Linked DNA regions of Homo sapiens. The protein of the gene in region 1 purifies or fractionates together with the protein of each later gene. This does not show direct contact. Each region holds a gene or a part of one and is shown in the gene's direction. Other genes may lie near its edges.

Region 1 (3,500 bases):
TATTCCATTGTGTCTATGTACTACATTTTCTTTACCTTTTCATCATCGATGGACACTTAGGTTGATTAATGTCTTGACCATTGTAAATAATGCTCCAATGCACATGGGAGGGAAGATACCTCTTTAACATACTGATGTCATTTCCTTTGGATGTATACACAATACTGGGATTGCTGGATCATATAGTTATTCTATGTTTTGTTTTTTGAGGAACCTCCATACTGTTTTCCATAATGGATGTACTAATCTCCATTCCCACCAACAGTGTACCAGTGTTCCTTTTTCTCCCCATCATCATCAACACTTGTTATCTTTTGTCTTTTTGGTAATAGCCATTTTTACAGGTGTGAAGTGGTATTTCATTGTGGTTTTGATTTGCATTTCCCTGATTAGTGATGTTGAGCATTTTTTTCATATACCTGTCGGCCACTTCTATGTCTTCTTTTTAGAAGTGTCTCTTCAGGTCCCTTGCCCATGCGTCCGTTTTAATTGGATTATTTGATTGCATACTATTGAGATGTTTGAGTTCCTGTGTATTTTGGATGTTAACCAAAATCTTGGATCTTTTGGATATTGATCTCTCATCCTGTATGTTGTCTCGTCACTCTGTTCATTGTTTCCTTTGTTGTGCAAAACCTTTCTAGTCTGATATAATCTCATCTGTCTATTTTTGCTTTTGTTGCCTGTGCTTTTGGGGTCATAGCCAAGAAATCAATGCCCACACCAACGTCATGAAGATTTTCCCCTATGTTTTCTTGTAGTAGTTTTACAATTTCAGGGCTTATGTTTAATCTTTAGTCCATGTTGAGTTGATTTTTACATATGATGTGAGATAAGGGTCTTATTTCATTCTTCTGCAGGTCAATATCTACTTTCCTCTACATCATTTATTGAAGAGGCTGTCCTTTCCCCATTTTGTGTTCTTGGTATCTGTCACAATCAGTTGACTGTAAATGCATTGATTTATATCTGGGTTCACTATTTCATTCCATCAGTTTATCTTCGTTTATGCCATTACTATTCAGTTTTGATTACTATACCTTTGTAATATATTTAAGAATCAGGTAGTATGATGCCTCCATCATTGTTCTTTTTGTTTGTTTTGCTTAAGATCACTTTGGCTATTTGAGGTCTTTTGTGGTTCCATACACATTTTAGATTTATTTTGTCTATTTTGGTAAAAAATGTCATTGGAATTTTAATAGGCATTGCATTGAATCTGTAGATCACTTTGGGTCATATGAACAATTAAGCAATATTGAGTTTTCTAATCCATGAACATGTACTGTCTTTCCATTTATTTTTGTTACTTTCCGTTTCTTTCATCAATATTTTACAGTTTTCACATCTTCCACCTCTGTCACAAATTTATTTAAAAGAGTTGCTGCCTTGACATCCATTTTTAGGCCCAATGTAAGTTGTTTAAAACCCAATCATACCACAGCATCTTTTGCCCAATTAATAATTCCTTTCCCTGTTCAATTGTTTTTGATCTAGCACATTTGTTCATCATCTCCCTGACCCCAAACCCAACACATCCCACAGGAGCTGACTACAATAAAACCTAATGGTTCACAGCAGAGCAGTGTGAACCTTCTTTGCAGGTGTTGTCTTCCACAATCCCTGTGGGAAAGCCTGGGGTATAATGCCCATGGATCTTTATAAAGGTGTAGTCCCACGGGTCCTCTCTCTCTGTCTCTTGCTCCCCACACACCGGTTAGTGTCCTCGGACTGGATAGCTCCCCACTTCCCGTAAGTGCTGCAAAGTGTGCTATCCTCTTCTCTCTGGAGTCTGTAAGTAATACACCACTTCTGTGTTTCCTGTGTTTTGTTGTGTTGCTTCCTCTGTGTTTTCCCTAATTGACACATCTGAACCTAACATCCTTCTCCATCTTGGCTCTCTTAAAGAGTGGCTGTCTCCTAAAGAGTAGAGATAACTTAAAACTGGACATAGGTCAGACAAGAGCCACCAGGTCTACTGCTAGTAAAAGTAATTGTCTTGTGGAAGGGACATGTACAAGATGAACACCCAATTAGGCATTAGACAGTCCACCGGGACAAATAAGTTTCCTGTGAACATCCATGATGAAATCTCCTGGATCCCCCCCAGGGCAAGGCTAGAATTTATAGCCACTCTACAGAGAGAAACCTCAAGACCAAATTAGAAAAAAATACAGCCACCACCTTGGTTAAATTTATTCCTAAGCATTTTTTTTGTAGCTATTATAAATGGGATTTTTCAGATAGTTTCTTGTCAGTGTATAAAAACACTACTGAATTTGTAAGTTAGGTTCATGTCTAACTTTATTTTACACTGATAACAATTTATCTTTGATCTCATAAAAAACTTGACACCTTTTCTTCTCCTGCCTTATTTTATGTTTTGTCATTATTTACGTCTTTTTATGTTGTGTATTCCTTAACAAATTGTATTAAGTATCATTTAAAAAAATACATTGGGCTTTTAACTTTTATAGTAATGATGTAAGTAATTTGTACACTATTATGATTGTATTAGAATATTCTGAACTTGACCATGTATTTAACCACCTAGTTTTATATTTTCGCATGGTTTTGTGTATCCAGTTAGTGTTCTGTTCTTTCAGATTGAATAACTCTCTTTAACATTTCTTGTAAGGCAATACATGCTAAAGATGAACTCCCCCCGTTTTTTTTTTTCTTTGTCTGATAAAGTCTTTACTGCTCTGCATTTCTAAAGGACAGGCTTGCCAGGTGTAGTATTCTTGGTTGGCAAGGAATTTTTCCTTTCTGTACTTTGTATGATTCCACTCTCTCCTGGCCTGTAGGTTTTCTGCTGAGAAGCCTTTGGTAGTTTTATAGGGGTTCCTTTGTACATTGCTTGTCTCTTGCTGGTTTCAAAATTCTCTTTGCCTTTGATGTTTGGGAATTTGTTTAAGATGTGTCTTGGTGAAGATCTCTTCATATTTATCTGTTAGGGGTTTTTTGGGCTTCATGAATGTGGATGTCCATTCCCATCCTGTTTTGGGACATTTTCTTTAATTATTTCTTTAATTACACTTTCTGTTCCTTTCACTTTCTCTGATGCTCCTTGGACCACCATAATGCATATATTGTTTTGCTTCACAGTAACCGTTGGTACTGTTGGCTTTCTTCCCTCTTTTTCATTCTTTATTTTTTTTTTCTTCCTGTGACTTGGTAATTTCAAATGATCTGTTTTCAAGCTCACTGATTCTTTCTTCCGATTAATCAACTCTGCTGTTGACATTCTCTGTGGAATTTTCTTAGTTCAGATATTGTGTTGTTGTTAATTTTAGAATTTCTGCTTTCTTCTTTATTATGTTGTCTGTGTATATTAAACTACTCATTTTGTTCATGTATTGTTTTCCTGACATGACTTAGTTGTCTATCCATATTCTCTAGTAGCTGACTGAGCTTCTGTAAGATGACTGTTTTCAAGTCTTTGTCAGGCTGTTGTAAATGTCTATTCCTTTCGGGTTGGTTACTTGTGCTTCATTTTG
Region 2 (3,500 bases), on another chromosome or scaffold:
TTTTACTCGTGGTCCTTCTGTGTTTTCTCAACATTTTCATTCTCTTTTGTGACCTTTTCCATTTTTCAGGGCATTACTTACCTATCTGATGATGTTTCTCCCAGATATGGACCATCTACTACACATCCACCTGCTTGAACTATAGGTACTTCAGAGCCAACACAGCTCAAATTGGACCCCTCCTTCTTCTTTCATCTGTTCCTCTTGTGTTCCCTATTTTCGTGAATGTTGCTGTTTCTACCTGCCTTCCAGAAAGATCCTGGATATCTACATATTTGTTTTCCCATTCATCTCTCACTCCCTTCACCCCCCATTTATTGATTGCACAAATGATTAAGCCCTGTTAGATCTGCTTCATTTGGAATGCATCCCTTTTCCTCCAGCCCCTTCATCATTCCCTAGTCTCCCTGATAATTTGATCATGTCATTTTCCTGCTTACACTTAAGCATTGTGGTGGCTCCCATTGGGTCCAGAAGGAGATCCAGACTCTTTAGCACAGGTGCTTTATGAGCTGGAGTTGCCTCTGGAGCGTCAACTCTTCTGAGTTCCCTCCCATGGCATCCTGCGTTCTAGCCGTACCAGACTACTACTTTGAAGTGCTCTACAGCAGGGCTTCTCAAACTCTAGTGAGCATGATTGCCTGGGGCTCTCGTTAAACTGCAGATTCTGATTTTGTAGGTCTAGTGCTTGTCTGTGGATCTGTAAGGCTTTGATGGGCCATGTTGTATATTTCCTTGCCTTTGAGTGTAATGTTGACTCTTGGAATGTGTCTCCCCTTCCCCCTTAGTCAGGTGTCCCCCATCTCTGTTGAACCTTAACTTGACTGCCTCTCCCATTTGACTGGCTCCTTTCTTGTGCCTCCTCTTAGACCGTGTATCACTAAAGCACCCATTAACACTATGACGTGCACTCACCAACACTCTGGAGCTGGCTGTAAGTTGCTTGAAGGCAGATACTGTGTCTTACTCCTTTTGCTTTCCCTGGTGTTTAACTTTGTGGCATATAGTAGGTGTCAAATGTTTGTTGAGTGAATCAATGAAAATCTTAAGACATTGAAGAAGGAATATGGTAAACTGGAGGAGATTGAAGGGATGCTTAACCCACCCATGCAGTGCAGTGTGTCTACACAAATTCACCCTGAGCTTGATTTCCAGGAATGTCCTATTTGAGGACAAATGAGTATTAGTGAGTGAAATTATTAGACATTAGTAATCTGTTTTCAAAATTGTAGCACCAAGAAGTATATCCTTTTACTTTGTAATATGTGGTCTTGCTCTTCATTTTCCCATCTCAGTACATCTATTTTTCAAATAGATGCTTTCTGGAAAACCAGCTTTTACTCTGTTCTCTTTGAGGTGATAAATACTCTTGCTTTGTCACATACATTTTCCTTGCATTTCTGGATCAGAGCTGCTTTGTGTGTGTATTCTTTGTGTGATGGTTTTTAGCATAATACTTGTATACTTCAGAGGAAAGATAAGCTTTGAGCTCAATCTGTTTGGAAGTAGATCTAGACTAATGATTGGCCTAAAGGTGAAAATTACATATTGTTCTTTGATGGGATGGTGTGATTTTTATTTCTAAAGTTGGAAGAAAACTTTTAGAAAACTCTCATTTTAGAAAAATCTTCTGCAAATATTAAGAATCTGATGGGTCCGGCTGGGTACTATTGTTCACACCCATAATCCCAGCACTTTGGGAGGCCGAGGCGGGCAGATCACTTGAGGTCAGGAGTTTGAGACCAGCCTGGCCAACATGGTGAAATTCTGTCTCTTACTAAAAATACAAAAACAAAATTAGCAATGGTGGCGGGCGCCTGTAGTCCCAGCTACTCGGGAGGCTGAGGTGGGAGAATGGCATGAACCTGGGAGGCGGAGCTTGTAGTGAGCAGAGATCAGGCCACTGCACTCCAGCCTCAGTGACAGAGTGAGACCCCATCTCAAAAAAAAAAAAAAATAAAAGTATCTATACATAAGTTAGCCAGGCGTGGTGGCCCATGCCTGTAATCCCAGCTACTTGGGAGGCTGAGGCAGGAGAATTGCTTGAACCCGGGAGGTGGAGGTTGCAGTGAGCCGAGATCACGCCATTGCACTCCAGCCTGGGCTACGAAGCGAGACTCCATCTCAATTAAAAAAAAAAAAAAAAAGAACCTGATGGGTCCTTTGGGGTTCTGAAATCTGTAACATTCGGCCTCTGCTCTGTGAGTGTAGATTTATCAATCACAGGGCTAGACAGGCACATGTACAACTATTAGACGTGCTGTCCATAAGAGAAGAATATAATATTGTGGTATTTCAGAGAGAGGAGCAGTGCCATTTGTTTTATGGCAGGGGGACATTGAGTTTTAGAGGACACATGGTAGTGGATATTCAGAATGTTCCAAAAATAGAGAAGAGCGTGAAGAGACTTGGAGGCCGTTTATCCCGTGTAGCTGTGTGGGATGTGGTGGAAGTTGATTTCTTGAGGCTACCAAGATTGCTTAGAAGGTAGGTTAGTTGATGATTGGAAGCCGTTGGAGGATTTTAAGTACAGATTTTGACAAAGTTTATGTAGATTATAGGAACGTGGGGATGGAACAACACTGGTATTGCAAATTAGCAGTAATAGGCCTTCAACGAGGTAGTAAAGAACTGACGAAAAGATCCGTTTCTTGAGAGAAAGAGAACAGAAGATTGGTGAGAGTGTTAGCAGAATTAAGAAAAGTAGATTTGGGGATTAGGGTAAACAATGGTACCTTTAGAATAGATGCTGATTACTTTCTTTTTTTTTTGAGATGGAGTCTCGCTCTGCCACCCAGGCTGGAGTGTAACGGGGCCATCTCGGCTCACTGCAACCTCTGCCTCCCAGGTTCAAGCGATTCTCCCACCTCAGCCTCCCAAGTAGCTGGGACGACAGGCGCATGCCACCATGCCTGGCTAATTTTTGTATTTTTAGTAGAGATGGGGTTTTGCCATTGCCATGTTGGCCAGGCTGGTCTCGAAATCCTGACCTCAGGTGATCCACCACCTCAGCCTCCCAAAGTGCTGGGATTAAAGGCATGAGCCACCGCACCTGGCCTGATGTTTATTATTTTCAAAGTGTGTTTGTAAACATAACATCATACAAACATTTCAACTTCCGTGGGTTATTACAAATTAGGAAACAGGGTTAGAAGTATAATTTATTCAAGACCTCAAGTTGAGATTCAACTCCAGATACCGTGATTCCCGTTTCTGAAATGTTTTACATATGTTGCAACATATGTTACAAGTGTTTTACATATGTTACACATTTGATCTTGTCATTTTCCTGTTTACAGTTAACTGCCATGGTAGTTATCATTGGGTGCAGAATGAGGTCCAGACTGTTGTGTTTTAGATGGTGAAGGGATTACTTATGGACAAAAACATTTTTTAAAAGGCAATATATGATATAAACTTGGGATTTAAAGACTTTCACAGGTAAGTAAACATAGAAGATCTCAGAATGTATCTGGAAGGGATCTTCATAGATTCTGAAG
Region 3 (3,500 bases), on another chromosome or scaffold:
AGCAGATAGCAACCCCTTTACCTGAGGTGGGGAGCTATTAATAAATAAATAACACTTTGCCTTGACTTAATACAGACGATCAACATTGAAGTCCAAAGTCTCTAGTCTGATGTAACCATTTAGATTCAATTGATAAAAATGACTAGGCTTATGGCATTTTGGGTAGAAGGATTAATTATAACTAGTGAGTAATAATTTGGGTGAGATTAAGCCTCTTCCACAAGTGGTTACACGCACATTAGACTTTGACTGTGACTGTTTATACTGGCAGAATGTCAGTATCTAGGGCACTATCAGAAACCCAATGAGATTTTTCTCCCAGGAGAACAGAATTCTGTTACTGAAAATAAAAGGGCAGCTTGGCCATGGTGCTTGAGCACCAAAGTGGTTCTTTTTGGTGACACTGAGAGGGTACAAGAAGAAAGTCCATTTGCCATTATCCCATATTCTGTTTTAGGCATTATTTCTACTTGGATTTTCATGAAATGTACTGACAGTGTTCTTAGCACATATGATAAATTCATGAGTTTGCTGTTGTGTTTGATCTAGCATAATCTATGTGGAATGTATAAGCTGAACTGTTTCTTTTTTGATGTTTGGTACAGATTATGAAAGTAGCTGGTATAAAATAAAATTTGAAAATGAATATCTCTCAATACATGACAACAATGGGGTATCTGTTTTTAGAATCATGTTGTCTTTGGTCATATGGCAATTTTTCTTTTGGTGAAGAGTGATCCAGAAGGCAAAATTTTTGATCTGTGAAAATAATACAACTCATTTAGAAGAAGTCAGCTGGGTCATGTTTTGAGTCTGTATTATTTTAGACAGTGATATACCATATAATGTATATTCAGTGTGTTGGAGGTTTCAAAGCTTTTTGGATACATTACAATGTTGGAAGATTTTTATATACCAGTGGTCATGACTAGCTGATTTTAGTTATGAGAGCGCTTTGGTTAAAGTTATGGAAACAGTCTAATCGTGAAATGTCAGTCTTAGAAGATCTGATCATACTTGGGCCAATTTATTTTAGTTACGGAGGTGAGACAATTTCAGAAGATTCACGATAAATTTAATAATACCAAATTTTGCCTTAGTCTTGACACTTGGAAGATAAATATTAGTGAGTATAAACTGTTTTAGGGATGAAGAAGTATTGTTAGTATACAAAAATGAAAATACTAATTATTTTAGCATGGGTCTTTTAGTCCTTTGCAGTCTGGACAGATAGATTATCTTAAGTAAATCATTGAACTTGCCCTCAGAGGAATTAGATTCTAGATAGTGCTCTGCCATTGACTCATAATTTGACCTTCGGAAAGTCATTTAAAATTATTATATTAATAACTAATTGAGTACATACATGTGCCAGACACCATTCATGCTTTTGTTTATAAAAAGAGAGGATTGCTCAAGCTTTTTGGTTTGCTGGGTTTTATTTTTTCAAATATTCATAATCTGGCTTATTTCACTTATCAGTTGACTTTTCAAACTTTGATGCAATTGCATTGATCCAAGCTAAATACTTTGTTGGCAAATTGATGACTATTCAGGAAAGTGATCACCAGTGGGTTATTCCATGACTAATGTTAGTTCTTTAAAATAAAGAGGTGCCATTTATTTAATTCCTTGACAGGGATTTTTGGTGCATTAAGCCTACTGATTTTATAATATGAGAAACCTTACATTTTCTTAAAAGTTTAGAAACGTATTTGATAATAAGGAGGTAGTGTTGTTTATTGGAAAAGCATTGAGCATAGAATTTAGGGTCTTTTAGTCCTTTGCAGTCTGGACAGATAGATGATCTTAAGTAACTCATTGAAATTTTCTGTGGTCATATCTGGGTTTCACTTTATTTTTAAGCCATGTGATTCCAATCTACATATTTCACAGGCATGGTAAAAGGATAAGTGAGAAACGTGAAGCCTTGGCTTTTAAGCAGACAGGTGCTATATAAATTCAAAGTACTGCAGCAGTGTATCATAGAAACACTAAAGCTTTAACAAGAGTTTACAGAAATGGCAGGGTTCTCATCACGTAAGTCTTGCCACATTTTTCTTTGTCTGTAAAAGTTCTGCACCCATCCAATTTTTACAAGCAAAGGAAAAATAAAGCCAGACATATTATAATGAAAAATAAGAGACTAGGTTGATAACAATAGAATAAAAACCTACATGTGATACTTTCTTCTTCTTCTTTTGTTTTGTTCTGTTTTGTTTTGTTTTAAAGACGGAGTCTTGCTTTGTCGCCCAGGCTGGAGTGGTGCAGCGGCCGTGATCTCGGCTCACTGCAAGCTCCTCCTCCCGGGTTCAGGCCATTCTCCTGCCTCAGCCTCCCGAGTAGCTGGGACTACAGGCGCCCGCCACTGTGCCCAGCTAGTTTTTTTGTATTTTTAGTAGAGACGGGGTTTCACCGTGGTCTCGATCTCCTGACCTCGTGATCCGCCCGCCTCGGCCTCCCAAAGTGCTGGGATTACAGGCGTGAGCCACCGCGCCCGGCCCGTTTTGTTTTGTTTTGTTTTGAGATGGAGTCTCGCTCTGTCGCCCAGGCTGGAATGCAATGGCGTGATCTCAGCCCACTGCAACCTCTGCCTCCGGGTTCAAGTGATTCTCGTGCCTCAGCCTCCTGAGTAGCTGGGATTACAGGCGCGTACCACCACGCCTGGCTAATTTTTGTATTTTTAGTAGAAATGGGGTTTCACCATGTTGGTCAGGCTGGTCTAGAATTCCTGACCTTGTGATCCGCCCGCCTTGGCCTCCCAGAGTGCTGGGATTACAGGCATGAGCCACCGCGCCCAGCCCATGTGATACTTTCTTCTATTTCTTACCTCAAATATTGTGCAAGGTAGCCCGTTAAAGCCATTAATTGGGTGGTGTTTTTCCCCTTTTTAACTAACTACTGAGTAGAATTTTGGTCTTCAGTGGTAATTGTTACAGAGTCCATTGGCTTACCATACCTCATTTTTAGTTTTGTGATTGCCCATAATGGGAGGTTTCGTGTAAAAAACCTCATAAAAAATCAAGTTTTTCCTCCTCATAATTGCAGTCTAAAGGAGGACAACACGCAGGTCTGGGAAACTGCATAGTGGAAGAGATAATCTATACATTTAAGTAGCATGCCATGAATAACACAAAAAATGGCCTGGCACGGTGGCTCACATCTGTCATCCCAACACTTTGGGAGGCCGAGGTGGGTGGATCACTTCAGGCCAGGAGACCAGCCTAGCCAACATGGTGAAACCCCGTCTCTACTAAAATACAAAAACTTAGCCAAGCACGGTGGCACGGGCTTGTAGTCCCAGCTACCCAAGAGGCTGAGGTGGGAGGATTGCTTGAGCCTGGGAGGCGGAGGTTACAGTGAGCCGAGATTGCGCCATTGCACTCCAAGCCTGGGCTACCGAGTGAGACCCCATCTCAAAAGAAAAACAGAAAAACAAACAAACAAACAAAAAAAAACAGAAAATGTGGGAAGTTAAGTTGAAAAATAAACACCTTCAA
Region 4 (3,500 bases), on another chromosome or scaffold:
AGAGCGGCAGGCCGGTTACAGAGCCTCCGACCAGCCCCCAGGCACGCGTGTACATCCGTGTACACGCGTGCTCACAAGGGTAACAGGCAGAGCCCCACACTGCCACGCTCGGGGTACAGAGAGGCCGACACTGGATTCACCAGTTTGGTTTGTTTTGGTTCATGTACCCTCCCCAAGATGGAGAAGGCCAACGCTCGGATGAAGCAGCTTAAACGCCAGCTGGAGGAAGCAGAAGAAGAAGCGACGCGTGCCAACGCATCTCGGCGTAAACTCCAGCGGGAACTGGATGATGCCACCGAGGCCAACGAGGGCCTGAGCCGCGAGGTCAGCACCCTGAAGAACCGGCTGAGGTGAGCAGGCATGCGGCCCCGAGCTGACAGGCAGCTGCTTTGTGGGTTAGCTTAGGCTCGGGGTGCAGCTGGTCAGAGGAAGTTTACTTAGATCCATACCCAGTGACCCATTCTTTCTCCCGAACCACTTCATTTAAGATTTCTGACCTTTATAGTCGTCCTTGGGGAGAATAAAAGAGGAGGCGGCCCTATTCATTGCCAGTCACTAGAGGACCACACTAATCCACCACACCAGGCTGGAGCTGGGTCAGGCATCCATCCCTGTCCAGATATCCATTAGTGAAGTGAGCTCCCAGCCTCTCTTAAAAAGCAGGGCAGGAGCTCCTCCTGGGACCTGGTGCCATCAGCCCTCCTCAGCACCGTCCTCCTCACCACAATGGATCTGCTCTGTACCAGTGAGAGGGCAGAGCGTGAGAGAGCTACAGCTGAAGTCTCTGCCCCAGAAGACCAGGTCGGCGGAGGTTTCAGCACATCTGGCCAATGGGCAGATTTGGTGCATACCCTGCTTTTATACAGCCATCAAACTAAGCATGGTTTCTACATTTTTAAATGGTTATAAAAACGCCGAAACAAAGAATATGCAACAGAGTCCCTATGTGGCCCACTTTGCTATCTGGCTGATTCCCTGGTTAGCAGGTAGAGCTTGGCCTTAATCCGTCTTCCTTACCATTTCCATCACACAGTCCTAGGCTGAATCAAGTCCTCCCCAGTTCTCCAAGGACCCTGCTTCGCGTACTCTGCAGGCAGGGTTGTGGGAGAGGCAGAAAAGCACGCAGTCCTTCCCCATCGTACCGCCACCCCCACAAGGTCGTGTGTCCGAGGAGGGGGTGCAAGGGGAAGGTTCCGTGGCATTGAGTGGTTGAACATATTGACAGCCATGTGCTCCTGTCTGTTTACCCACACACATCTGCTTCCTGTGTTCTCCAGGCGGGGTGGCCCCATCAGCTTCTCTTCCAGCCGATCTGGCCGGCGCCAGCTGCACCTTGAAGGAGCTTCCCTGGAGCTCTCCGACGATGACACAGAAAGTAAGACCAGTGATGTCAACGAGACGCAGCCACCCCAGTCAGAGTAAAGTTGCAGGAAGCCAGAGGAGGCAATACAGTGGGACAGTTAGGAATGCACCCGGGGCCTCCTGCAGATTTCGGAAATTGGCAAGCTACGGGATTCCTTCCTGAAAGATCAACTGTGTCTTAAGGCTCTCCAGCCTATGCATACTGTATCCTGCTTCAGACTTAGGTACAATTGCTCCCCTTTTTATATATAGACACACACAGGACACATATATTAAACAGATTGTTTCATCATTGCATCTATTTTCCATATAGTCATCAAGAGACCATTTTATAAAACATGGTAAGACCCTTTTTAAAACAAACTCCAGGCCCTTGGTTGCGGGTCGCTGGGTTATTGGGGCAGCGCCGTGGTCGTCACTCAGTCGCTCTGCATGCTCTCTGTCATACAGACAGGTAACCTAGTTCTGTGTTCACGTGGCCCCCGACTCCTCAGCCACATCAAGTCTCCTAGACCACTGTGGACTCTAAACTGCACTTGTCTCTCTCATTTCCTTCAAATAATGATCAATGCTATTTCAGTGAGCAAACTGTGAAAGGGGCTTTGGAAAGAGTAGGAGGGGTGGGCTGGATCGGAAGCAACACCCATTTGGGGTTACCATGTCCATCCCCCAAGGGGGGCCCTGCCCCTCGAGTCGATGGTGTCCCGCATCTACTCATGTGAACTGGCCTTGGCGAGGGCTGGTCTGTGCATAGAAGGGATAGTGGCCACACTGCAGCTGAGGCCCCAGGTGGCAGCCATGGATCATGTAGACTTCCAGATGGTCTCCCGAACCGCCTGGCTCTGCCGGCGCCCTCCTCACGTCAGGAGCAAGCAGCCGTGGACCCCTAAGCCGAGCTGGTGGAAGGCCCCTCCCCATCGCCAGCCGGGCCCTCATGCTGACCTTGCAAATTCAGCCGCTGCTTTGAGCCCAAAATGGGAATATTGGTTTTGTGTCCGAGGCTTGTTCCAAGTTTGTCAATGAGGTTTATGGAGCCTCCAGAACAGATGCCATCTTCCTGAATGTTGACATGCCAGTGGGTGTGACTCCTTCATTTTTCCTTCTCCCTTCCCTTTGGACAGTGTTACAGTGAACACTTAGCATCCTGTTTTTGGTTGGTAGTTAAGCAAACTGACATTACGGAAAGTGCCTTAGACACTACAGTACTAAGACAATGTTGAATATATCATTCGCCTCTATAACAATTTAATGTATTCAGTTTTGACTGTGCTTCATATCATGTACCTCTCTAGTCAAAGTGGTATTACAGACATTCAGTGACAATGAATCAGTGTTAATTCTAAATCCTTGATCCTCTGCAATGTGCTTGAAAACACAAACCTTTTGGGTTAAAAGCTTTAACATCTATTAGGAAGAATTTGTCCTGTGGGTTTGGAATCTTGGATTTTCCCCCTTTATGAACTGTACTGGCTGTTGACCACCAGACACCTGACCGCAAATATCTTTTCTTGTATTCCCATATTTCTAGACAATGATTTTTGTAAGACAATAAATTTATTCATTATAGATATTTGCGCCTGCTCTGTTTACTTGAAGAAAAAAGCACCCGTGGAGAATAAAGAGACCTCAATAAACAAGAATAATCATGTGAACGTGGAATCTGTTTTCTCACCTTCTGTTCTCGATTTCCCATCTGTGATCTGACTGGAGGGTGGGTGCTACACACCAACTTCAAATGATGGCGCCAGGCCCTTTTTGCTGAGGGCGCTGTCTCCCAGGTCAGACGACAGAATAATTCTCAGGCCAGTCCTGGCTCCAACTCTTGTTCCTGCCAGTGCCTCACAGGATGCACACGCACTAGGAAGGGAAAGACCACCCAAAGGCAGGAGCTGGCCCACCTGTCAAGGGAGTGATTTAGGAGGGCTCTGGTCACCAGCCAATGAAGCTCACTGCTGGGTTAGGACATTTTCAGGGGTCCAGGACATTTCAGGCTGCATTTTCAGGCAGACACGCATTGAAGATGCTTTTGGAGGATTCAGTGATGAGGCCAAGGGCAGCCTCTCTAGTGCGGGCCAACTAGGATGAGAGAAATACTAGGGCAGCACAGAATCAAACAGAGAATGCCGATTTCTTGTTCC
Region 5 (3,500 bases), on another chromosome or scaffold:
TGTTTATTGCAGCACTATTCACAATAGCTAAGACTTGGAACCAACTCAAATGTCCATCAATGATAGACTGGATTAAGAAAATGTGGCACATACACACCGTGGAATACTACGCAGCCGTAAAAAAGGATGAGTTCATGTACTTTGCAGGGAGATGGATGAAGCTGGAAACCATCATTCTAAGCAAACTATCAAAAGGACAGAAAACCAAACGCCGCATGTTCTCACTCATAGGTGGGAGTTGAACAATGAGAACACTTGGACACAGGGCGGGTAACATCACACACCAGGGCCTGTCGGGGGTAGGGGGCTGGGGGAGGGATAGCATTAGGAGATATACCTAATGTAAAGGACGGGTTGATGGGTACAGCAAACCAACATGGCACATGTATACCTATGTATCAAACCTGCATGTTGTGTACATGTACCCTAGAACTTAAAGTATAATTTTAAAAAATTTAAAAAAAAAGAACATCAACTTTATGGTACAACTGAGTCTGAATTCGAAGACATTTATGTCTTCAGGTCTGGTTTTTGGAAAACAAGTTTCTTGCGTAGTCACAGAATTCTATTTTTCAAAGCTGAGAGTGGATACAAATGGTATAGGTTGAGCTGGGGAGCTGGGTGTTGGTATTGAAGTCTGTGGCCCTGGCTTTGTTTTCATCGACTTGGGTGAGTACCTGAGGAGGCCAGCATCGGGGAATGGAACGATTCAGGAGCTCAGCTGCTGAAGCTGCGAAAGGCACAACTCTCAGACCTGCTTCCTGGTAGTGTGAATGCAAGTCTGGTAGATGTTTCATTCGGGCACCAGTTGTCATCTTTTAGAGGTGCCTTTTTAGTATTGCCTTCTGTCTCTAAGACAGGGACCACCAAGGCGTCTGGGTGCCAGGTAGGAAACTCACCATCAGTCAGTCTGAGTTTGAGAACCTGGAGGCAGAAATCACCAAGACATTAGACCCACAGATTGCCTGCAAATCCACCAAACCCCTGGGCCGAAAAATCCGTCCTGAGTCTCTAGCATATCAGTGATCATAAAGAAGCACTCTCTGTTTCAGAAGCTTTTGAATGCTAGTGGGTCTGTAGTGAAAATTACACATACACTCGTATGTGGTCGAGGGGAAATCTGGGCCTGATGAAACGTTTGAAGGCTAAATGTTTCATTCTTTTTAAAAATATGTATATTATTTTTGAAATGGGGTCCTTGTTGTGTTGCCCAGGCTGGTCCTGAACTCCTGGGCTCAAGTGATCCTCCCCTCTTGACCTCTCAAAGTGCTGGGGTTACAGAAATGAGCCACTGTGTCCAGCCTGATGGCTGAATGTTTTGTTCCAGCAATAGCCTCAGTAGCAGGTTGCAAGGCTCTGTCCCATACATGCTGGTAGTTGGCTTCAATTTAAGTAAATGCAAAGGCAGATATATTTTTGACAGATTATTCCTTCTCTTGTGTTAATAACAATGAGCTCATCTCCTTGGTTAGTTTGACTAGAACATGCCCTTTTCTTTTCTTCAGGCCAGACAATGCAGTGCCAGGGGACGTGCTGGTGCTGACAAAACCCCTGGGGACACAGGTGGCAGTGGCTGTGCACCAGTGGCTGGATATCGTGAGTAAACCACTGCTGTGATGGGAGGGAGGGGAATGGTACGTTTGCAGGTAATTTTTGTTGGAGGATTTGGGAAATGAGGTTTTTTAGTTTCATATCCAGGGAGTTAATATTAGTCAAGTCCTTAAAGAAATCCTAGGAATTGTTCATAGTCTTTAAATAACAGTTTTGCATATTGAATGCTTGATTGCAGTAGGTAAGCCCCAGCTTGGAGCTTTAAGATTTTTCTGTAAAGAATTTGCTCGGCAGGGGGTTAGCTTTGTTTACTTGGCCCTGAGATAGCTTCGTCTTTCATGTCTTAAACATCACTAAGAAATAATATGAAGGAGAATTGGTGGAAGGCGTAGTGTTTGGGGTATAAATAAAACCAGGGTTATTGACAGTTTAAATTGTTTTATGCAGTTTTTGGTTGTTTTTGTTTGGTAGTTTTGTCTTTTTAAACTGATGAGTAACTCAGAACATTTTGATAAATAATTCTCTTGTGCAGAATGAATCTATCTATAATGAGGATATGTCTTGTGAGTCATTTTTCCAGTGAGCTATAATCATACTTTAAGATTGGTTTTCTTCATTGCCGTAACAACTCACAAATTAATAAGATTGGGGTATATTCTCACATATCATGGTGCATTTAATTTCTACAACTATCATCTGAAACTACCAGTCCTGAGAAACAGTTGAAAGAGAATAATCAATAATTACACGTCTTTCATCAACCTGGTATATCTTAGCTTGATGTCGCAGGGTAGAGAAATTCTCTAAGGCTGCCACGTTCTTTAGCAGTTTTTCCCTCCTCCCCCTGTGATGGGGAGCAGAGCAGAAGGCCACTGCGGGGATGTTGCGCAGAGGTGCCTTCCAGCCCCACCTCCCAGGCCTGAGCTAGCAGGGAGCTGGAAGCAGGTGAGGCAGGGAGTGTCACGGATGGGGGAGCCCTTCTCCACTAGCAGGACACTACACTGCATGTACAGCAGTGCCGCCGTGTGTCCCGCTAGACTACACATACCCAATAAATCACAGCACTTAATTACAGAAATGTGGGATGAGAACAGAAAAGACGCCATGCTGACAGGTCTAATGGACACCTAAAATACTATCCACAGAAAAACCAGAGTTGGAAAATTCAGTTTTCTGAATTAAAGTCCCTAGAAGTTAAATAAGAAAAAGTTGCTGTTTTTCTCAGTTGCTAGAAGTAAAGATTAATCACATTTTCCTCTCTTTCTCTCCCTCACCTACATTTCTATTATCAGCCTGAGAAATGGAATAAGATTAAACTAGTGGTCACCCAAGAAGATGTAGAGCTGGCCTACCAGGAGGCGATGATGAACATGGCGAGGCTCAACAGGACAGGTATGACAGGTGGGAAGGGCGCTTCGGTCCCAGGGGTCCAAGACAGTAAATGTCTTAGGCTTTTCTGGCCACATACTGTCTCAGGGTAGGTGGCCAGATTTTTGGCCAGTGACTACAGACCGTCTTCTCCTGGTACCAGGTTGGCATTCCATAGATCACTGCAGATGGTCCCTGACTTACAGTGCTTTATAATTAAGAAGGAAGTCCTAACTTCTGACATACCAGAGGAACTATTTCTAGAAAGCGTTTGTGTGGGTTACCTATGTAAGATTTGGAAGCAAACCATTCAGAATGGAAATTTAGAAAGTTTAAGATACTGGAGCTATTTCCAGAACATAACCTTGGAAGTCTAGAAGTGCCCCCACTCCCACCCATCCCCTGCATTCCTGCTTAGGTGTAACCACTGAATTTTGTGTTTATTTTCTTGCATTTTAGAATATTTTTATTGCACAGCCCTTGTGTTCTTAAGCAGCAAATTAGTTTTGCATTTTTTTTACTTGTTTTGTTCACCATTGTTCCTGAGAGTCTCCTTGTTATATGTAGCTGTAGTAGATTCC
Region 6 (3,500 bases), on another chromosome or scaffold:
GGTATCAGCCCAGGCTGCGTGTTAGAACCACCTGGGAGCTCTAAAAAGCGCTGGCTGCTGACGCCCCCAGAGGCACTAAGTTTACAGGGAAGTCTCAGGGCAGCAGGAGCTTGCAGGCCTCCAGAAGGAACACCCGTGGGCATCTGGGCATGGCTAGGAGTGTTTCTGGTAAGTTCAAGGCATTGAGCCTGCACACAAGTCTCTTGGCCTCTTGCCGAGTGCACGTTCTGATTTGGCAGGAAGGTGGGCCTGAGCCCTGCTGGTGGGGGCTGTGCTGGTCTGAGGTCCGCGCTGTAAGGGACTGGTGGGATGCCACATTGGAAGGAGGCCGCCCAGCTCAGTGTCTCTTACTGGGGCATGTGATGATTTTTCCCCACGTCTCTGTGGAAAAGATGAAAGTAGCTGCATTCGTTGCCCATTCTCCAGTCCCACTGGTAACTGTGTACCTGTCTCCAAGGAGACCTGCATCCAAAGATCTATGCCATATTGTGGCAACATGTGGCATACCACAGAGATCAAGAATTCCTGCGGAAAAGCCCTGAGCTCAGAGGAGAGGGGCCAGCCAGGAGCTGGCCTCCCTTTGCAGGAGAAAGGCATGAGGAGCCTGCACCCTAGCTGTTATTTTTGTCTCAGGCTCAGATATGGAGGGGGCTAAACGCCGCCCTCTGGAAGCAGCTGTCTGGTTGTGGACCAGCCTTGTGTGCCCTCCACTGCAGCAGTCAGGGAGGTTAGGGTAGGAGCGTCAGCGTTCACGGACAGCCTTGGGCTTTTACAGTGATCAGAGAGACCCCTGCCCTCAGCAGGGCCAGCACTCCTGGGCAGGGAGAGAGAAGAAACCTCACAAACCAGGGCCTGAAGCGAATGTGGCCAGCGAAGTCCTCCTGGACCGACCCCCTTGTGGCTCCCCGCGACGGGTGCTGGTCGGCGGGGTGCAGGCCACGTGTCTGCACACGTTAGGTGCTCAGGTGCTGACGTGCTGGGCCTTGGTTAGACGCAGGTCTGGGCCCAGGTCTGGGTTAGGTACCTTGGAGGGAGGGGAATGAAGGGCAGGGTCTGTAGGTGACTGGGTAGCTTTGGAAAGGTTTCTTAGGGCTCGTGGGCCGTGCATTCGGGCAGCTGGGGCTACTGGGGCCTCAGAGCACCTGCACTGCCATGGATTGAGGGGCGTCTGCCCCCTCCATTACCCAGAAGCTTCGTTGGTGGAAAGCGGGTGGCAGAGGGCAGGGCAGTGTGTCATCAGCTTACCCGCCCAGTGTGTCTCCTTCACAGGGTCACAGTAAATCGATCCAGTGTCTGACGGTGCATAAAAACGGCGGCAAGTCCTACATTTACTCTGGGAGCCACGACGGACACATTAATATCCTTTGACTCAAAGAGCTGGCTCCGGAGCCGCTGGCTCTAGGGGGGAATTTCCTGTTCCCATGATGCCAGAGGCCAGGCCAGCCAGGTGGCTCCAGCTGCAGCCACAGCCACACGCTCTTCTGACCCGTGTGGCTTCTAGGGGTGGCCTGTCTGTACATGGGGACAGGCAACTGTCCCCTGGAGTTGTCCTTGGCAACTCCAGGGCTTATGCTGAGGAAAAGCCATGGGCGGCTCCGACCTGATCAGTCCCTTCTTGTCGTGCAACCCTGAGAGTGTGGCTTAACGGCCCTGAGCTTGGGCTGCCACTACCTCTGCCAATGGCACCTGGCGCCAGCCTTGGCCCTACTCCACATGGTGGGTTTCTTGATTCCTAGAATTCACAAGCACCTGGACACCCTTACGTTGGGTCCCCTTGTTTTAAAAATAGGAAAACCAGAGCCCAGAGAGCTGATGTGCCCGCCCCAGAGTCATGCAGCCTGTGGTCCACAGAGCCAGGGCTGGAGCTCCTGCGAGGTGCCTTGTGGCCCTTCGGTGATGTTCCCTGGAGGTGTTTGTGTCCCCCTTATAAGTCCTTGTCTGGGTTTCTTTAAATGAGTCCTGGTTTCTCCCTGATGATGGGGGCTTCTGTTGTGTTTTTCCTGCATGGCCTGGGGCTGGTGACACCCTGCTCACGGGTGTGTCTTGAACCTTGGAGCCACCATCTGCAGAGTGCCTGGGCAGGGATGCCCACACACGTTGCTGATGATGGCACCTGCTGTGCGTTGTTCTGCTGCCCTCCCTGAGCACCGTGCTGTGTTGGAGACTGCCTTTTGTGTGGACAGCTCTGGTCCGCATGTGCTGTACCTCCCAAAGGGACTGTCCGGGACCCAAGGAGGTCCCCCCAGGCTGGGAGAGGAGGGCAGACATGCCACCCTCTGCCCCCAAAACATAAAGAAATGTGGGGTTAGAGGGTTGCGCCTACCCGATAACTAGTAGCAGAGGAGACGCCGGAGCCTCCCCAGCTTGCTGGTCCCCAGTAGGCCTTCAGCACGGCTCCCTTTCTGCCTCATCCCAATCCCTGTGTGGTGCACCCACACTTCAGATACCCCTTCCTAAGAACGTGTCAACAGTGGACACTGCAGGCTTCCCAGGGGGAATGGTTATGTCCGTTTGCGGCGAGATTCTCATTCTTGATGTAAATGGAGAATCTTAGGACTGAAGCCACACCTGAGAACACCCAGCAGTCCTGGGAGCCGGGCTTTTCCTTAACCCCACCCTACATTACTGGGATTCAGAGACGGGGGAGAACGACTCCTTCGCTGGGAAAGGCCACACGAACCAGGTGTCCAGGATGACCGTGGATGAGTCGGGGCAGCTCATCAGCTGCAGCATGGACGACACCGTGCGGTACACCAGCCTCATGCTGCGGGACTACAGGTGAGAGCACTCGGGTCTGCGGGGGTTCCGGATGAGCCTCAGCTCCCCTCGGAGGGCTTGTGCCCTCCAGCAGTTACTGTTCTGGAGGACGCCTCACTTGCTCCTTTCATCTCTCCCACCCCGTCCCCAGCATTGTTCTCCTGTTGTTGGGCCCTGAGCCCAGCACTGTGTTACAGATCCAGGTGGTCTGGGTAATGCTCTTGCCCACAGACAACGACCAGGTGTGGACTCTGCCCTGGAAGCAGGGGCAGCAGATCACAGCCCTGTTCTCCAGGAACCTGCTGCGGTCTCTCCCTGTGTCCCTTTCCTCATCAGTAAAGGCGGGTACAGTGGAGCCTGCCTCAGGCTGTTGTGGATTAGGTGAGCCTGGCACAGGGCAGGTGCTGAGTACAAGACAGCATTCCCCTTCTGCTCAAGGGTGAGATGGGCACACAGTGATCTGGTTAAAAGACAATGTCTTGTTTGTTTTTGGTCTTGGGCCTTTGATTGGCAGTCAGTGGAGCTAGGAGAGTAGCAGTTTGCAAGTGATCTGAAGTCCTAAATGCAGTTGGAGGGACTTGAAAGAGAAATGTTCCAGGACCTGACGAGGCCACTGCACATCCAGTGTCCCCATGCCCAGGTCTGACCCCTCCTCTGGCCCTACATTTCTTGTGTAGACCCCTTTGTCACCCGGTAGTCCTGCCTAAGTCGTGTTGCCTGGGAGATGGGGACTCCTGGGGCCT
Region 7 (3,500 bases), on another chromosome or scaffold:
CAGTTATCTCCTGCTGGGCCCCTCCCACAACCAGTAGGAATTACGGGAGCTACAAGGTAAGATTTGGGTGGGGACCCAGAGCCTAACCATGTCAGTCACTCATCAGAAGGGTTCCTTTGCCCTTTGGGGGCTAGGCCCTGTGCTCAGTGCTCATGTGCTGTATTGGGTTCCACCTTTAAAAGCCCCCTGTGAGTTGGGTAGTGGTGTGAGAACCGTGACCCGTCTTACAGGTGAGGAAGCTGAGGCAAGATGCTGGCCTAGGCCATCCAGTTGGTGGTGGAGGTACCCAGGCTGCTCTTGGAGAGGCTGAGGGCACCACAGGAGCTCGGGGAGTCCTGTGGGCGGGAAGCCTCCTAGAGGAGGAAGGCCAGTGGGGCCAGCCCGCAGGGTGTGAGAAGGGCCCAGTTCTGCAGCTGATGGCATCTCCACTGCCCTGTCCTCCACTCCTGCAGCAGAAGTGCCATAGTGGGGTTCGGGAAGACTGTGGGTCCTTGAAGGACAGGAGGCTGCAGGGAGCACCTTCTGTGTGCAGGCCCTTCCCCAGGACTGGCTCTCCAAGGAGGCCTCACAGTCCCTTCCAGACCCCTTCAGGCCAGTGTCACCTGACCACAGTTTGCTTTCATTCCTTGGTGAGCCTTGGGGCAGGCTTGGCTACACCCAGAAGTGATTCACCATGAAGTAAAGAGAGAGAGACACACAAAGAATGAGATGCATGTTTAAGAGCATTTTATTTGGCAGAGAACCAGAGATGTGAGTTAATTATTCCCTACAGTTGCTGGAAATAATTCCCTGTGAAGGGGCATTTCCTGACCCTAACATAATGGAACAAGTCAGTGTAGGGAGAAGGAGTTTAGCTGGGTTCCCAGAAGCCAGGGTGGCTTGGGGCCAGGGTTGCCTGGAGCCTAGGCCCCTGACTGTACCTGGGGGAAGGGGCCAGGGCATCCAGGGATTATCATGTCAGGCCAGGCACCCGGAGGTAGCGTCTTGATAGAGCAAACTGGTCTCCACTCACTGTTTCTCCCTGCCCTCCTGTTTAAAAAGTACAGAATGATATTAAGAAATGAACGTTTTCCTTATTTTTTTATTTTTATTTTTTCTGAGATGGAGTCTCGCTCTGTCACCCAGGCTGGAGTGCAGTGGTACGATCTCGGCCCACTGCAACCTCCGCCTCCCGGGTTCAAGTGATTCTCCTCCTGCCTCAGCCTCCCGAGTAGCTGGGACTACAGGTACGTGCCACCACGCCTGGCTAATTTTTTGTATTTTTAGTAGAGACGGGCTTTCACCATGTTAGCCAGGATGGTCTCAATCTCCTGACCTTGTGATCTGCCCACCTCGGCCTCCCAAAGTGCTGGGATTACAGGCATGAGCCACTGCACCCAACCAATGTTTTCCTTATTCTTAGCACACTGCCTCCCACCCCCAATTTAAATCTAATGATGTATTTTGTCCATGTTATCATGAGAAAAGCTTACAAATCTGTAATCCCAGTGTGTGTGTGTGTGTGTGTGTGTGTGTGTGTGTGTGTGTATAATATAAAATCTAGTATTACACTTTAAACCAAGCCTTCTATCATGAGCTTTTTCTCCTGATATTAACAGTGGAGAGCTGGTTTTTTTTGTTTTGTTTTGTTTTTTTGAGATGGAGTCTTGCTCTGTCACCCAGGCTGGAGTGCAGTGGTGCCATCTTAGCTCACTGCAACCTCCGCCTCCTGGGTTCAAGTAATTCTCCTGCCTCAGCTTCCCGAGTAGCTGGGATTACAGACGCGCACCACCACACTCAGCTAATTTTTATATATTTAGTAGAGACGGGGTTTCATGACGTTGGCCAGGATGGTCAGTCTCAAACTCCTGACCTCAGGTCATCTCCCTACTTCAGCCTCCCAGAGTGCTGGGATTACAGGCGTGAGCCACTGCACACATCCTGAGAGCTGGTTTTAATGATCACATAATATTCTGTTTTATGGAGATGCTATAATCCATCTAGCCAGTCCTTTGTTGTTGGACACGTAAGGTAGTTTCCAAATCGTTCTACAACAAATGTCGACCTTCTGTTTAGGGTTCCCTCTCTTCAAATTAGTTCATGAATGGATGTTTGCAGCCCCCCACCCCTAACTCTAACAGCTCAGGCAATACCAAGCCTCAGGGTTAGCCCAGGCTCCTGTAGGCCCCTTCCCTGTTCACAACCCCTTCCTTGGCATCTCCTCGGGACCTCAGCACGCCCTCTGACCTGAGCCTGATGGCCCTGTAGGGCTTAGCCTTGTCCCTAGTCTCGAAGCCAAAGCTGTGCTGGGCCTCCAGTGCTAGCCTCGGTTCGACTTCCCTGGAAGTGGGTGTGGGCTTGGGGTGGCAGCCAGTTGCCTTCCCTGGAATCCCTTTCTGGGAAGTCGAGTTGGCTTCTCTGGCTCAGCCCCATCATGTGGCCCCTTTCTGGAGCTGCTGTGCCAGACCAGAGTCCCTGCAGGGTCTCTGGGCCCCCTCAAAACCTACAGGGGAAAGAGGAGGCAAGGCTGGGACAGGATAGGGCCTCTGAAGTGTGGGCCTGAGGCTTTGTCCTTCTGGCCATGGTACCCCACAGGGGCACCACCTCCTGTGGTGGAGGCCACAGAAGAGCAGTATGAGGCAGGAGAGGCTGCAGGGAGTGCTCCTGGCCTGCTGGCATGTGGAAGTGCTGAGTCATGCTGACAGCTCCGTGGCTAGCTGTCCCAGCCTCTTCCTGCTGCCCCTGCCTTGGCCCTGCGGCAGGGAGGCCTGGAGGCTTGGACTGCTGAGCATGCAGCCGGGTTGAGGGCCTTTTCCTGCAGGAGCAGGAGGGCAGCCATGTCCCCTCTGAGCCCAACCAGGCACCAGCCTCATTTCCTAGGGCTACACAGCTAGACACTGGGCAGGGTAAGGGGAGGTCCCCAAGTCCTACCACTCCTCACCCTACTTGCATGCCTGCACGGCAAGGAGCGGACAGTCTAGGCTACAGTCAGACCTGCGTTTGAATCCTGGCTCAGCAACTTCCTGACAGCGCGACCTTCAGACAAGTCCTGTCTGTTGCTGCCGTCCCTCTGCTACCCCCATCCCCTCACATCTCCCAGGCCGGGAACGTTCTGTTTGCTGGGTAATTTATCCCAAGTTCAGTGTTCTTTTTAACGTCTCACTGTCTTGAAAAGATCACAGTTGCCTGTGTTGAGGGGAGGAGAGGGCCCCTGTGGTAGAGAAAGAGCCAGGTGCAGCTTCAGTCTTGGGGTCAAGAGCTAGTCTTGGAAGCTTGGGGAGAGCCTGTCCCAGGAAGCGCCTGGTCCTCAAGTGCCCTCTGCTCTATCCTCCCCAGAGCCCTCTTGCTCCAGGGTGTTGCCTAGAGTGCCTCAGGCCTCCTTGGCCCACCTCCCTCCTCCGGGCAGAAGCAGAGCTTGGTTCCCAAGGTTCCCCTTTCCCACTGGCCCACCCAGCCAGTCCCAAGGCCTCCTCCAACCTCTGGTTCACAGCGGGGTCTGTCCCCTGCAGCAGGTGGCTCAA

What was found.
Region 2: the proteins of TNFRSF10D (region 1) and LRPPRC purify together in Homo sapiens (affinity purification with mass spectrometry; one large-scale study listed by BioGRID and IntAct). This does not show direct contact.
Region 3: the proteins of TNFRSF10D (region 1) and PLS3 purify together in Homo sapiens (co-immunoprecipitation; one large-scale study listed by IntAct). This does not show direct contact.
Region 4: the proteins of TNFRSF10D (region 1) and MYH10 purify together in Homo sapiens (affinity purification with mass spectrometry; one large-scale study listed by BioGRID and IntAct). This does not show direct contact.
Region 5: the proteins of TNFRSF10D (region 1) and SEPHS1 purify together in Homo sapiens (co-immunoprecipitation; one large-scale study listed by IntAct). This does not show direct contact.
Region 6: the proteins of TNFRSF10D (region 1) and WDR1 purify together in Homo sapiens (co-immunoprecipitation; one large-scale study listed by IntAct). This does not show direct contact.
Region 7: the proteins of TNFRSF10D (region 1) and TKT purify together in Homo sapiens (co-immunoprecipitation; one large-scale study listed by IntAct). This does not show direct contact.

The regions. Positions count from the first base shown.
Region 1 is NC_000008.11:23,150,528-23,154,027, reverse strand, and holds part of TNFRSF10D (tumor necrosis factor receptor superfamily member 10D precursor), read left to right. Parts: intron 1-3,500. UniProt on the Homo sapiens protein: Receptor for the cytotoxic ligand TRAIL. Contains a truncated death domain and hence is not capable of inducing apoptosis but protects against TRAIL-mediated apoptosis. Reports are contradictory with regards to its ability to induce the NF-kappa-B pathway.
Region 2 is NC_000002.12:43,989,490-43,992,989, reverse strand, and holds part of LRPPRC (leucine-rich PPR motif-containing protein, mitochondrial precursor), read left to right. Parts: intron 1-3,500. UniProt on the Homo sapiens protein: May play a role in RNA metabolism in both nuclei and mitochondria. In the nucleus binds to HNRPA1-associated poly(A) mRNAs and is part of nmRNP complexes at late stages of mRNA maturation which are possibly associated with nuclear mRNA export.
Region 3 is NC_000023.11:115,564,174-115,567,673, forward strand, and holds part of PLS3 (plastin-3), read left to right. Parts: intron 1-3,500. UniProt on the Homo sapiens protein: Actin-bundling protein.
Region 4 is NC_000017.11:8,473,726-8,477,225, reverse strand, and holds the end of MYH10 (myosin-10), read left to right. Parts: intron 1-177; coding exon 178-350; intron 351-1,277; coding exon 1,278-1,422; 3' UTR 1,423-3,002; downstream 3,003-3,500. UniProt on the Homo sapiens protein: Cellular myosin that appears to play a role in cytokinesis, cell shape, and specialized functions such as secretion and capping. Involved with LARP6 in the stabilization of type I collagen mRNAs for CO1A1 and CO1A2.
Region 5 is NC_000010.11:13,327,794-13,331,293, reverse strand, and holds part of SEPHS1 (selenide, water dikinase 1), read left to right. Parts: intron 1-1,505; coding exon 1,506-1,596; intron 1,597-2,843; coding exon 2,844-2,943; intron 2,944-3,500. UniProt on the Homo sapiens protein: Synthesizes selenophosphate from selenide and ATP.
Region 6 is NC_000004.12:10,082,300-10,085,799, reverse strand, and holds part of WDR1 (WD repeat-containing protein 1), read left to right. Parts: intron 1-1,269; coding exon 1,270-1,357; intron 1,358-2,621; coding exon 2,622-2,778; intron 2,779-3,500.
Region 7 is NC_000003.12:53,235,523-53,239,022, reverse strand, and holds part of TKT (transketolase), read left to right. Parts: intron 1-1,202; coding exon of another isoform or gene 1,203-1,226; intron 1,227-3,500. UniProt on the Homo sapiens protein: Catalyzes the transfer of a two-carbon ketol group from a ketose donor to an aldose acceptor, via a covalent intermediate with the cofactor thiamine pyrophosphate.